Linked DNA regions of Homo sapiens. The protein of the gene in region 2 interacts with the protein of the main gene of each other region in a biochemical or structural test. Each region holds a gene or a part of one and is shown on either strand. Other genes may lie near its edges.

Region 1 (3,749 bases), on a different chromosome or scaffold from region 2:
CTAGGCTGGTCTCGAACCCCCGACCTCAGGATCCGCCCACCTCGGCCTCCCAAAGTGCTGGGATTACAGGTGTGAGCCACTGCGCCCAGCCCAGATCATCTTCTTAAATGTCACTCTGGGCCGGGCGTGGTGGCTCACGCCTGTAATCCCAACACTTTGGGAGGCCAAGGTGGGCAGATCACGAGGTCAGGAGTTCGAGACCAGCCTGGCCAACATAGTGAAAGCCTGTCTCTACTGAAAGTACAAAAAGTAATGGGGCATGGTGGCATGCGCCTGTAGTCCCAGCTACTCAGGAGGCTGAGGCAGGAGAATCACTTGAACCCGGGAGGTGGAGGCTGCAGTGAGCTGAGATCACGCCACTGCATTCCAGCCTGGGCGACAGAGCAAGACTCCATCTCATGTAAGTAAATAAATGTCACTCTGGCCACCTGCCTGGCCCATGAATAGAAACTGTATAGTAGCTACAGTATACAGACTGGAAGCCCATCTAGCTCCCCAGCTACAGCTGCCTGCCCGCCTCTTCCACTCAGTCTTCTTTTCTCTCTTGTCAATCCCCTTTATCACTGTATCCAGTATACAGACTGGAAGCCCATCACAACAGCGACAAAGTTCAACACTGGGGATCCCCATTTCCCCTTTTGAGAAGAGTGAAGTAGCCGTGCCACTCCCCCAGGGGAGGGATCAGAGCCCAGGCTCCAGACTTACCACAAAAGTGTCATAAGAAAACCGGTGCCGGCGCTGGATGTGCTCTCTGAAGTTGGCGCTGCGGTAGTTGGGGTCTCCCCAGGGCATCGAGGCACATATCGGACAAACCTTTCAACACAAAAGCAAGGTCTTAGGCACCCAATTTCCAAGCTTGCACCAGCCCTCTGTGGCCTGTGTCTGGCCTCCTTTCTTCCAGGACAGCTTTCCTGACATACTGTCCAGGGCCAGTAACTCCTTCCTGTGCACATCAGCAGCCCAAAAAAACACTGCAAATTTCCAGCTCAAGTCAAATGACACGTGGGACTGGGTAAAGTTCAAATCATGATACCACCCTTTCTCATTCCCTACTGTAAGCAGAGAAGTGAGTCAGCCTGGTGGGGGGCCTAGACTGGCCTTCCAATCCAGCACACAAGACAATCCAAAAGCATGAGGAAAACTAAGAAAATAAGCCGATGAGCAATGTCCCAGGGAAGTAAAACACAGCCTTACATGCATCTTAACAAAGGAAATGCTCAGAAGAGGGGGATCAGGCTGAAAAGCCCTCACACAAAAGGTTGATTTGGTTTTTGAAGATTGGGAAGTATTTGGAAAGGCAAAGAGGACATGAAAGAGTGCTCCAGGCCGGGCACAGTGGCTCACACTTGTAATCCCAGCACTTTGGGAGGCCAAAGCGGTAGATCACCTGAGGTCAGGAGTTTGAGACCAGCCTGGCCAACATAGTGAAACATCTTCTCTACTAAAAATACAAAAATTAGCCTTGCATGGTGGCACACGCCTGTAGTCCCAGCTACCTGAGAGGCTGAGGCATGAGAATCGCTTGAACCCTGGAAGTGGAGGTTGCAGTGAGCCAAGATTGTGCCACTGCACTCCAGCCTCCAGCCTGGGTGACAGAGTGAGACTCTGTCTTAAAAAAAAAAAAAAAAAAATTGTGCTCCAGAAGAGAGGCAGCAGCACGGAGAAAAGGCCAGAAGGCGGCAGTTACTGTCAACACATGTAAACAACCAGACCAGTGAGTGCAGAAAACTCATGCCAGGGAGAGAGAAGACCTAAGTGCCCCCACTTAAAGGTGGAACCCTACCCCACAGCAAGGAAGATACAGTGATAAAGGGGATTGACAAGAGAGAAATCTGGAATGGTAGAAGACTGAGTGGAAAAGGTGGGCAGGCAGCTGTAGCTGGGGAGCTAGAACATAGGGTGGGACTAGAGACTGAAAAGGAGATGGCTTCTAAAGGGAAGGGAGAAACGCAGAGTTAAGAACTTGCAGAGGGCCGGGCGCGGTGGCTCACGCCTGTAATCCCAGCACTTTGGGAGGCCGAGACGGGCGGATCACGAGGTCAGGAGATCGAGACCATCCTGGCTAACACGGTGAAACCCCGTCTCTACCATAAATACAAAAATTAGCCGGGCATGGTGGCGCGCACCTGTAGTCCCAGCTACACGGGAGGCTGAGGCAGGAGAATGGCGTGAACCCGGGAGGCGGAGCTTGCAGTGAGTCGAGATCGCGCCACTGCACTCCAGCCTGGGCGACAGAGCGAAACTCCGCCTCAAAAAAAAAAAAAAAAAAAAAAAAAAAAAAAAAAAAAAAACTTGCAGAGGGAGAGGAAGACAGAACAGAGGGCCAAAGGCTGAAGAGAAGGCCTCAACATAGACAACATAATCAGAGGGATTTCAGAAGCCAAAGGAGGGGAAAAAGACAGAAAATTAGGCTGCCATACCAGAAAAGTTCAGCAATAACAGTATCCAACAAAATTATGAGTGCAAGTAACATTTAACCAAGTCAATCTGTATCTAAGACTTTAGCTTATAAACATACATAGATACAGGCAAAGATATGTTTCTCAAAATGGCCAGTTCCATCTTAAGATGAGCATTGATAGCTGCCCTAGTACTCTCACAAAAGCTCATTAAAATTCTAAAATTTCTGCACCACTGTTTACAGCAATGGAGCTGAAGGCTGCCCATACAACAGAGTATGTAGTTCAAGAGAAGCAGTATGAGATAAATGGAAAAATTAAAACTATAGAGGAAGTATACACCTAACTATAAAAAAAGACCTGGTCTGTCAATCACATTGAGAGAGAAAGGTAACACATTGCTAAGATGGAACAAATACTTTTTTGGGGGGGGGGGGGGGGGGGGGGGCAGTTTTGTTCTGCTGCCCAGACTAGAGTGCAGTGGCAGGATCTCAGTTCACTGCAACTTCTGCCTCCCAGGTTCAAGCAATTCTCATGCCTCAGCCTCCCAAGTAGCTGGGATTAAAGGCGCCCGCCACCATGCCTGGCTAATTTTTGTATTTTTAGTAGAGATGGGGTTTCACCATGTTAGCCAGGCTGATCTTGAACTCCTGACCTCAACTGATCCACCCGCCTTGGCCTCCCAAAGTGCTGGGATTACAGGTGTGAGCCACCGTGCCCAGCCTACATTTTTTTTTTTTTAAAGGAGACTACACATGCCAGTAGGTAATATCTGAGTAAAATGTCCAAGGATTGATAAGCCTTTTCCTAATAATTTCACCTAAATCCTCTTTCCCCACAACTATGAAGAAGCTACTTCCAAAAATAAAATGGCAGCTTCATGGAGAAATTTGGTGGACACCAAGGGAACCAAGTTAATGTTACCAACAACAGACATCACATGACTTAATGTAGCACCCAGAGGACAGAGAACTCGTGTACCATCCCTGCCTCTGCCTTGGGGGGAGGGGGAAATTGCTATGAAAGACATTACAATTGTTAAAATTAAAACATGAATTTCACATTAGACATTAGATTGAATCAATGTTAAATTTCTTGAATATGATTAATTATACACACAAAAATATAATTTTCCAAGAAAACATTCTTGTTCTTAAGACATACACACTCCTGTATCAGGGTGCGAAGTATTCAGGGTGCAAAAATGGTCATGGTATCTGTAGCTTATTCCCAAGTGGTCAGCAAAAAATGTGTACTATAGAGCATGGTTAAGCAAATATGGTAAAATGTTAACAATCTGTCAATCTAGGTGAAGGGCACACAGGAGTTCATTCTACTAATCCCGTCATT
Region 2 (3,251 bases):
CTCCGACGCCAACTCCATGGGCGCCCCGGGTCTGCGCCTTGCTCTGGCCCAAGCTAAATGCCAAGCTCCGGCCGCCTTTGTGACGCGCTGCCGCCTGCAAGGCTCTGTTCCTGCCCCCGGGTCGCAGAGCCCCAAACCTGCAGTTGCCTGGTCAGTGGATCCCATGTGCAGAGGGCGAGACGGGGCCCTGGCCAGGCGTTGGGAGGCGGGAGGCTCGGCCGGCGCTCCGGGTGAGGATGGCACGCCCCCGCCCTTGCTTCTGCGCACAGGGAAGACATTCGGCCCCGAACTTGGGGCTCAAAACGGTTCAGTTCGCTGCCTTTCCCATCCTGACCCAGCCCCGGGTTTTTTCCGAAGCCGCCGCTGGATAGGTTGCATTACTAGGCTTCCCCCAGCCACTCTCCCTGCCCAAAGCCTTCAGAAGCCGCCCCTCTCCCCTTCACCTGGCCCTTATCCACTGTCCCAGCCTCATTTCTTTCCCCCTCCCTGAATGTCTTCTGCTCCCCTTTCCTTGGGCACTGCCCTTATCCTGGGGTCCTGGCTGCTGCCATTCCTGGCCCTGGAAAACCAGTGCGGAACCCAAAGAAAGGTGGAAGAGCAGCTTTTAGAGAGGTGTTTTTATTCTTTGGGGACAAAGCCGGGTTCTGTGGGTGTAGGATTCTCCAGGTTCTCCAGGCTGTAGGGCCCAGAGGCTTAATCAGAATTTTCAGACAAAACTGGAACCTTTCTTTTTTCCCGTTGGTTTATTTGTAGTCCTTGGGCAAACCAATGTCTTTGTTCGAAAGAGGGAAAATAATCCAAACGTTTTTCTTTTAACTTTTTTTTTAGGTTCAGGGGCACATGTGTAGGCTTGCTATATAGGTAAATTGCATGTCACCAGGGTTTGTTGTACAGATTATTTCATCATCCAGATAAAAAGCATAGTACCAGATAGGTAGTTTTTTGATCCTCACCCTCCTTCCATGCTCCGACCTCAGGTAGGCCCCAGTGTCTGCGGTTCCCTTCTTTGTATCCATGTGTACTCAATGTTTAGCTTCTACTTATAAGTGAGAACATGTGGTATTTGGTTTTCTGTTTCTGAGTGAGTTCATTTAGGATAATGGCTTCCAGCTCCATCCACGTTGCTGCACAGGACATGATCCCATTCTTTTTTATGGCTGCATAGTATTCCATGGTGTATATGTGCCACATTTTCTTTTTTTTTTTTTTAAGGCAGAGTCTCGCTTGGTTGCCCAGGCTGGAGTGCAGTGGCAGGATCTCGGCTCACTGCAACCACCACCTTCCAGGTTCAAGCGATTCTCACGCCTAGGCCTCCCAAGTAGCTGGGATGACAGGTGCTCGCCACCACGCCTGGCTAATTTTCGTATTTTTAGCGGAGACGGAGTTTCTCCATGTTGGCCAGGCTGGTCTCAAACTCCTGACCTCAGGTGAACCACCCGCCTCAGCCTCCCAAAGTGCTGGGATTACAGACATGAGCCACCACTCCCTGCCACCACATTTTCTTTATCCTTTCTACCACTGATGGACATTTAGTTTGATTCCCTGACTTTGCGATTGTGTATAGTGCTGCCGTGAACATTTGTGTATATATGTCTTTATGACAGAATGATTTAGATTCCTTTGGGTATATAACCAATAATGGGATTGCTGAGTCAAATGGTAATTCTGTTTAATCATGTCCCATTTGTCAATTTTTGCTTTCGTTACAATTATTTTTGGGATCTTTGTCATGAAATCTTTTTCCGTTCCTATGTCCAGAATGGTATTGCCTAGGTTATCTTCCAGAGTTTTTATAGTTTGGGGTTTTACATTTAAGTCTTTAATCCATCTTGAGTTGATTTTTGCATATGGTGTAAGGAAGTGGTTCAGTTTCAATCCTCTGCATATGGCTAGCTAGTTATCCCAGTACCACTTACTGAATGGGGAATTCTTTCCCCATTGCGTATTTTTGTCAACTTTGTCAAAGATTAGATGGTTGTAGGTGTGTAGCTTTATTTCTGGGCCCTCTATTCTGTTCCATTGATCTATGTGTCTGCTTTTGTACCAGCACCATGCTTTTGTACCAGTATCATGCAGTTTTGGTTACTGTAGCCCTGTAGTATAGTTTGAAGTTGGGTAATGCGATGCCTCCAGCTTTGTTCTTTTTGCTTAGGATTGCTTTGGCTTTTTGGGCTCTTTTTTGGTTTCAAATAAATTTTAATGCTTTTTTTTTCTGATTCTGTGAAGAATGTTATTGGTAGTTTGATAGGAATAGCATTGAATCTATAAATTGCTTTGGGTAGTATGGCCATTTTAACAATATTGATTCTTCCTATCCATAAGTATGGAATGTTTTTCCATTTGTGTCATCTCTGATTTCTTTCAGCAGTGTTTTGTAATTTTTGTTGTAGAGATCTTTCATCTCCCTGGTTAGCTGTATTCCTAGGTATTTTATTCTTTTTGTGGCAATTGTGAATAGGATTGCATTCTTGATTTGGCTCTCAGCTTGGATGTCGTTGGTGTATAAAAATGCTACCATATTTTGTATATTGATTTTGTCTCCTGAAAGTTAGCTGAAGTTGTTTATCAGATCTAGGAGCTTTTGGGCCAAGATCATGGGGTTTTCTAGATATAGAATCATATCGTCTGCAAACAGAGATACTTCGACTTCCTTTCTTTTTGGTTGCCTTTTATTTCTTTCTCTTGCCTGATTGCTGTGGCGAGGACTTCCAGTACTATGTTGAATAGGACTGAAGTGCCTTGTTCTACTTCTCAAGAGTAATGCTCCAGCTTTTGCTCATTCAGTATGATGTTGGCTGTGGTTTTGTCATAGATGGCTCTTATTATTTTGAGGTATGTTCCTTCGACGCCTGGTTTGTTGAGGGTTTTTAACATGAAGTCAAGTTGAATTTTATCAAAAGCCTTTTCTGTATCTATTGAGATGATACGTGAGTTTTGTTTTTAGTTCTGCCAAACCTTTTCTTTTAAAGCCCAACGAATAAAACCCATCACCTTTCACAAGACCACCACAGCAAGTAGGCAGGAATGCCAGTGTTAAAAGTGAAATCTTTTGAATTTGTAGTACCTTTCCTTTTCCAAATCTAGCTGAAATTTCTCACTTGTTTTCCTTTTGATGAAGCTAACCACCGGCATTTCTCCTAAGAAATGGATATAAAAAAAGTTTGATATGGTTAAAGTAAGAAGTGCTAGCTCCTAGAATATCTCTGGATATTGCTGTCCCTTGTTACAGAGCATGAGCCCTGCCCAAAGAC
Region 3 (3,749 bases), on a different chromosome or scaffold from region 2:
GGGCAGGGAGGGCAAGGCGGTCCTGAGAATCTGGAAGGGCCGTCCTGGGGAGGCCGAGACCTCAGGTGTCCAGGACCAGAGAACTGTAAGCAAGCGTCTGTGTTGCCAGCAGCAGGGGGACCCGGTCCCTTCTGCTGCTAAAACAATCTCAGGCACTGAGCAGCCACTACTCCATGGCCAAAAGCAAGTCACTGCAGGACAATCTGGCCGAGGGCAGAAACCTGGCTGGAGAAGGGTAGCGGGAAACAGGTAAGGAGATCTCTGGCGCCTGCAGGAGTTCAAATACTTGCTCCAGAAAAAGGAAGAGGCCAAGTGGAGGCCACTCAGAAATGCCCCAGGCTGGGGACAGACGCTTCGTGTGACTGAGGGGCAAGCTGGGGATGCTTCCGTGGAGGCAGGGCGCCATCCTCCACCCACAGCACACCCACTGTCCAGGGCAACAGGCTGCAAGATCGCAGGTGTCTGAGGCCCTCCTGGACTCAAGCTCGGCACCCAGCTCTGCCTAAGGGCTGCTGGACTCCGAGGGATGCACCACATTCCAGCAAGGTGCCGGGAGACACAGCCGCATCTGAAGACCCAGATTAGAGAACGGAGCTGCTGTGGGATACGGGAGGCCGCTCTGCATGTGACCGGTTCTGATCCTTTCTGGCTGCCCAGGAGAGAAGAACTCTGAGCAGGGAGAGACGGGAGGTGCCCAAGCACCCAAGACCACAGCCTGCTCAGCCGCACCACTCTGGAGTCCAGGGCAGCCCCTGGACATCTGGACCTTCGACCTCGAGGACAAACCACCGAGGGGCCACGTACTAGTGTGAGCGCTTCATAGAACTTATTCACCTGAGATGTGGCAACGTCGGGAAACGCAAATGCAAAATCACCTCTAGCTGCTCAGTCCTCCGGAAGCCACTGAAAGAACGGGGCGCTGGCTGGGGCCTCTCCACCCTGAAGCGGATGTGCCAGGGAGGGCCACGGGGCACGGGCCAGGCACCAGGACAGGATGGACATGGGGGCCAATGAGGCCCATGACAAGCTGCAGGCCCTTACGCTGCTCTGATGTGGGTGTGGCAGTGCCCATCAGCCCGGCTCTGGCCCTCCTGGCAGCTGGAGGGTGCTCGGCCCTTAGATGTCCTTGACTGTGCCCGCGGCCCTTGTGACCTTGGAGCCCCCAGCGCCGTCCCCGGTATCGGCTGGCAGGGGAAGGCTGCATTGGGAAGGTTTCAGCTCAGCCCCCTGGTCCTTACCCTGGCCACAACCCACGTGGGTTCCCCTGGCCCGGGCTAGGCGGCTCTGACAGTGCTACCCCCACCGGGCTGGCCCCCCCGTCAGCCGTCACCACAGGAAGTGAGAGATGAAGACGGGAGGGGAGGGAGGCGCCGGGGCTGGCTTCCTGGTGCAGGAGCAGAGACCGCGATTACTCAACAGGAAAGAGAGAGGGCCCCGGCCCCCACCCTCTGCAGAACCCGTGGGCTGAGGCTGCCCATCAAGTGACCCCGGCTCCAGGGCGGCCCAAGCAGGCGGGTACCTTTTTGTTGCAGCCTCGACAGGGCGCTTTGTAGGATGAGAGCTGCTTCTCCACGTGGGTGGCCTTGTCCACCTTCTTGGGGTCGAAGGGCAGGCGGCAGAGTGGGCACAGCGGGGATGGCACCTGCAGGCAGGGCTGGAGACACTCCCCGCAGAACCTGCAGGGCACAGGGGCCTGAGTGCCAGCCCGCCCCTCGGGTCTCCCGAACCGCAGGCCTTGCTCGGGGCCCTTCTTAGGACCCAGCATTTGTGGGGTCCACAGGGGCAGCTCCCCCTACCGCTGTCGCCGTCTCTGGAGATGGTCACTCCTATGTCCGGGGCCCACCAGCTGGATGGGCCCCATCTGGCTAAAGGGTGGCCCCGGTCCCTCCTGACAGTAGGCCCCTGTGGTTTCTGGCTAGCGGCAGAGCCGTCACTATGGCTGTCCCCGCGAGTGGGCCAGAGGAGCTCCCATAGGCAGGAGGCCCCAGCTCGGGCTACCAGGTTCACGTTCACGTGGCGACAACACCTGGGTGGGCTGTGGGGCGCAGGGACAGCCCGGGGACTCTGGAAACTCTCCCGGCTCCACACTCTGGGGGATAAAACCTCAAACAATCGTGGGAAAGGAAACGGCCAGGCCCCAGGGGCTCCAGATGCACTGGACAGGGAAGGGCCAAAGCTAGCCAAGTGGCAGCACATCCTGAGGCTGGGTGGCAGTCACCAGGCTTGGGACAGCTTCGCAGGCAGGAGGGGGTCCTGCTCCATCTGGGCGGAGGCTCGGGTCCTGGGCACCCATGGGCCCTGGCTCTTGGCACTGCCCCTGGGGACACCACATCGTGAGGACAGACTGAGCGTCCCACAGCCCCGTGCGCACTCCGGGCTCCAGCAGCAGGGGCTTCCTTGGGCTCGCACACCCTCCCGCTCTGCAGACGCACACAGCCCTTGGAGGGGTGCACCACCAGCCAGTGGGAGCACCAGGCGCGAGAGCCCCCAGTGCAAACACAGAGAAGGAGCTTAATACTGGGGCAGCCACATCTGGCCTTGTGAGGAGCACTGTGGGGACAGCTGAGCTGCGGCGAGGAGCTGGAACTGAGGCAGAGCCCCCCAGTCCCAGGAAGGCTACAGCACCCGGGGGTGTAGCTTCCCTTCTCCCTGGCAAGGCCACAGGGCTGGTACAGGAGCCCCACTGGACAGAGGGGCTGTGGGCAGGCCCTGGGTTCACAAACGACTCAGCTGAATTCAGGGCCAGAGTCCTCTTTGCTGTCAAGAGATTTCCACATCCCTCAAGAAAAGGCCCTTTCTGCAAGGAGGAAGTCTGAGGGCCTCAGGCAAAGGTGGCCAAGCAGGCATCTTAAGTCCCTCCTGCTGTCCCCCAGGCCCTCTTTGCCACCACTGGATTCCCACAGAGCCACCACCTGGCTGGTGGCTCCCACATGAAACTTCGTGTGAGAGAAAGCGGGACTCAGCTTGAGACCCGTCAGAAAGTGAACAAGCCTTTTTCTGCAGAGTAAAGAGGTCGCTCACTTTACCCACCTCACCCGAGTTCTCACCAGGCGCCCCAGCAGATATTTCCAGGGTCATCCCTGGCACTGACCCCTGGATTTGAGCCGGGGGGGCCGCCTACTTCACCCGTTCACGGGAGGAAGGTGCTGGCAAGATGGTCCACCTGGGGAGGCCTCAGGGGACCCCCATACTCAGGCACTCATGGCAGGAGAAGCGGAAGCAGCTCAGGTGCCCGTCGGTAAACGGATGAAGAGACGGCGTGGCGTGCACACCCATGGAAAGGGCGTTCGGCCGGGAAGAGGCGTGCAGCCCCACCACGCACCGGAAGGCCTGGAAAACAGTGCAGGGCAGACAGCAAGCACGTCCCACCCGTGTCGTGGGGGTCCACTCACGCTCAACGTCCAGCAGAGAGAAACCCAGTGACCAGAAAGCAGACGGGTGGGTGCCAGGCGAGGGGGAGAGTCCTGGGTTTCTTTCTGGAGTGGGAAGAATCTTCTAGAATTGCATCGATTGTTGCATAATTGCAAACACACTGGAAACGACTGGATGGTGCACCTCCTGAGTGAACCCTGAGCTGCCAGAGACCAGGCCGGGGCTCGGCTGCACAGCACGGCCACGGGCTGAGGGGAAGGAAAAGGGTCCCAGGCAGAGCTTGGGAAGAGAGGAAAGGTGCCCAGAAGGTTGGCTGGGAGGAAGACAGCCTCGTCCTCCCCGGAAGGACTCAGGAAAGACACAAGAGGGAACCCAGC

What was found.
Region 1: the proteins of XAF1 (region 2) and RNF114 form a complex in vitro, tested with the Homo sapiens proteins (2 studies listed by BioGRID).
Region 3: the proteins of XAF1 (region 2) and RNF166 form a complex in vitro, tested with the Homo sapiens proteins (one study listed by BioGRID).

The regions. Positions count from the first base shown.
Region 1 is NC_000020.11:49,946,312-49,950,060, reverse strand, and holds part of RNF114 (E3 ubiquitin-protein ligase RNF114), read right to left. Parts: intron 814-3,749; coding exon 706-813; intron 1-705. UniProt on the Homo sapiens protein: E3 ubiquitin-protein ligase that promotes the ubiquitination of various substrates. In turn, participates in the regulation of many biological processes including cell cycle, apoptosis, osteoclastogenesis as well as innate or adaptive immunity.
Region 2 is NC_000017.11:6,772,999-6,776,249, reverse strand, and holds the end of XAF1 (XIAP-associated factor 1), read right to left. Parts: intron 3,138-3,251; coding exon 3,081-3,137; 3' UTR 603-3,080; downstream 1-602. UniProt on the Homo sapiens protein: Seems to function as a negative regulator of members of the IAP (inhibitor of apoptosis protein) family. Inhibits anti-caspase activity of BIRC4. Induces cleavage and inactivation of BIRC4 independent of caspase activation.
Region 3 is NC_000016.10:88,699,743-88,703,491, forward strand, and holds part of RNF166 (E3 ubiquitin-protein ligase RNF166), read right to left. Parts: exon of another isoform or gene 3,048-3,749; intron 1,677-3,047; coding exon 1,520-1,676; intron 1,209-1,519; exon of another isoform or gene 1,199-1,208; coding exon of another isoform or gene 878-1,198; exon of another isoform or gene 1-877. UniProt on the Homo sapiens protein: E3 ubiquitin-protein ligase that promotes the ubiquitination of different substrates. In turn, participates in different biological processes including interferon production or autophagy.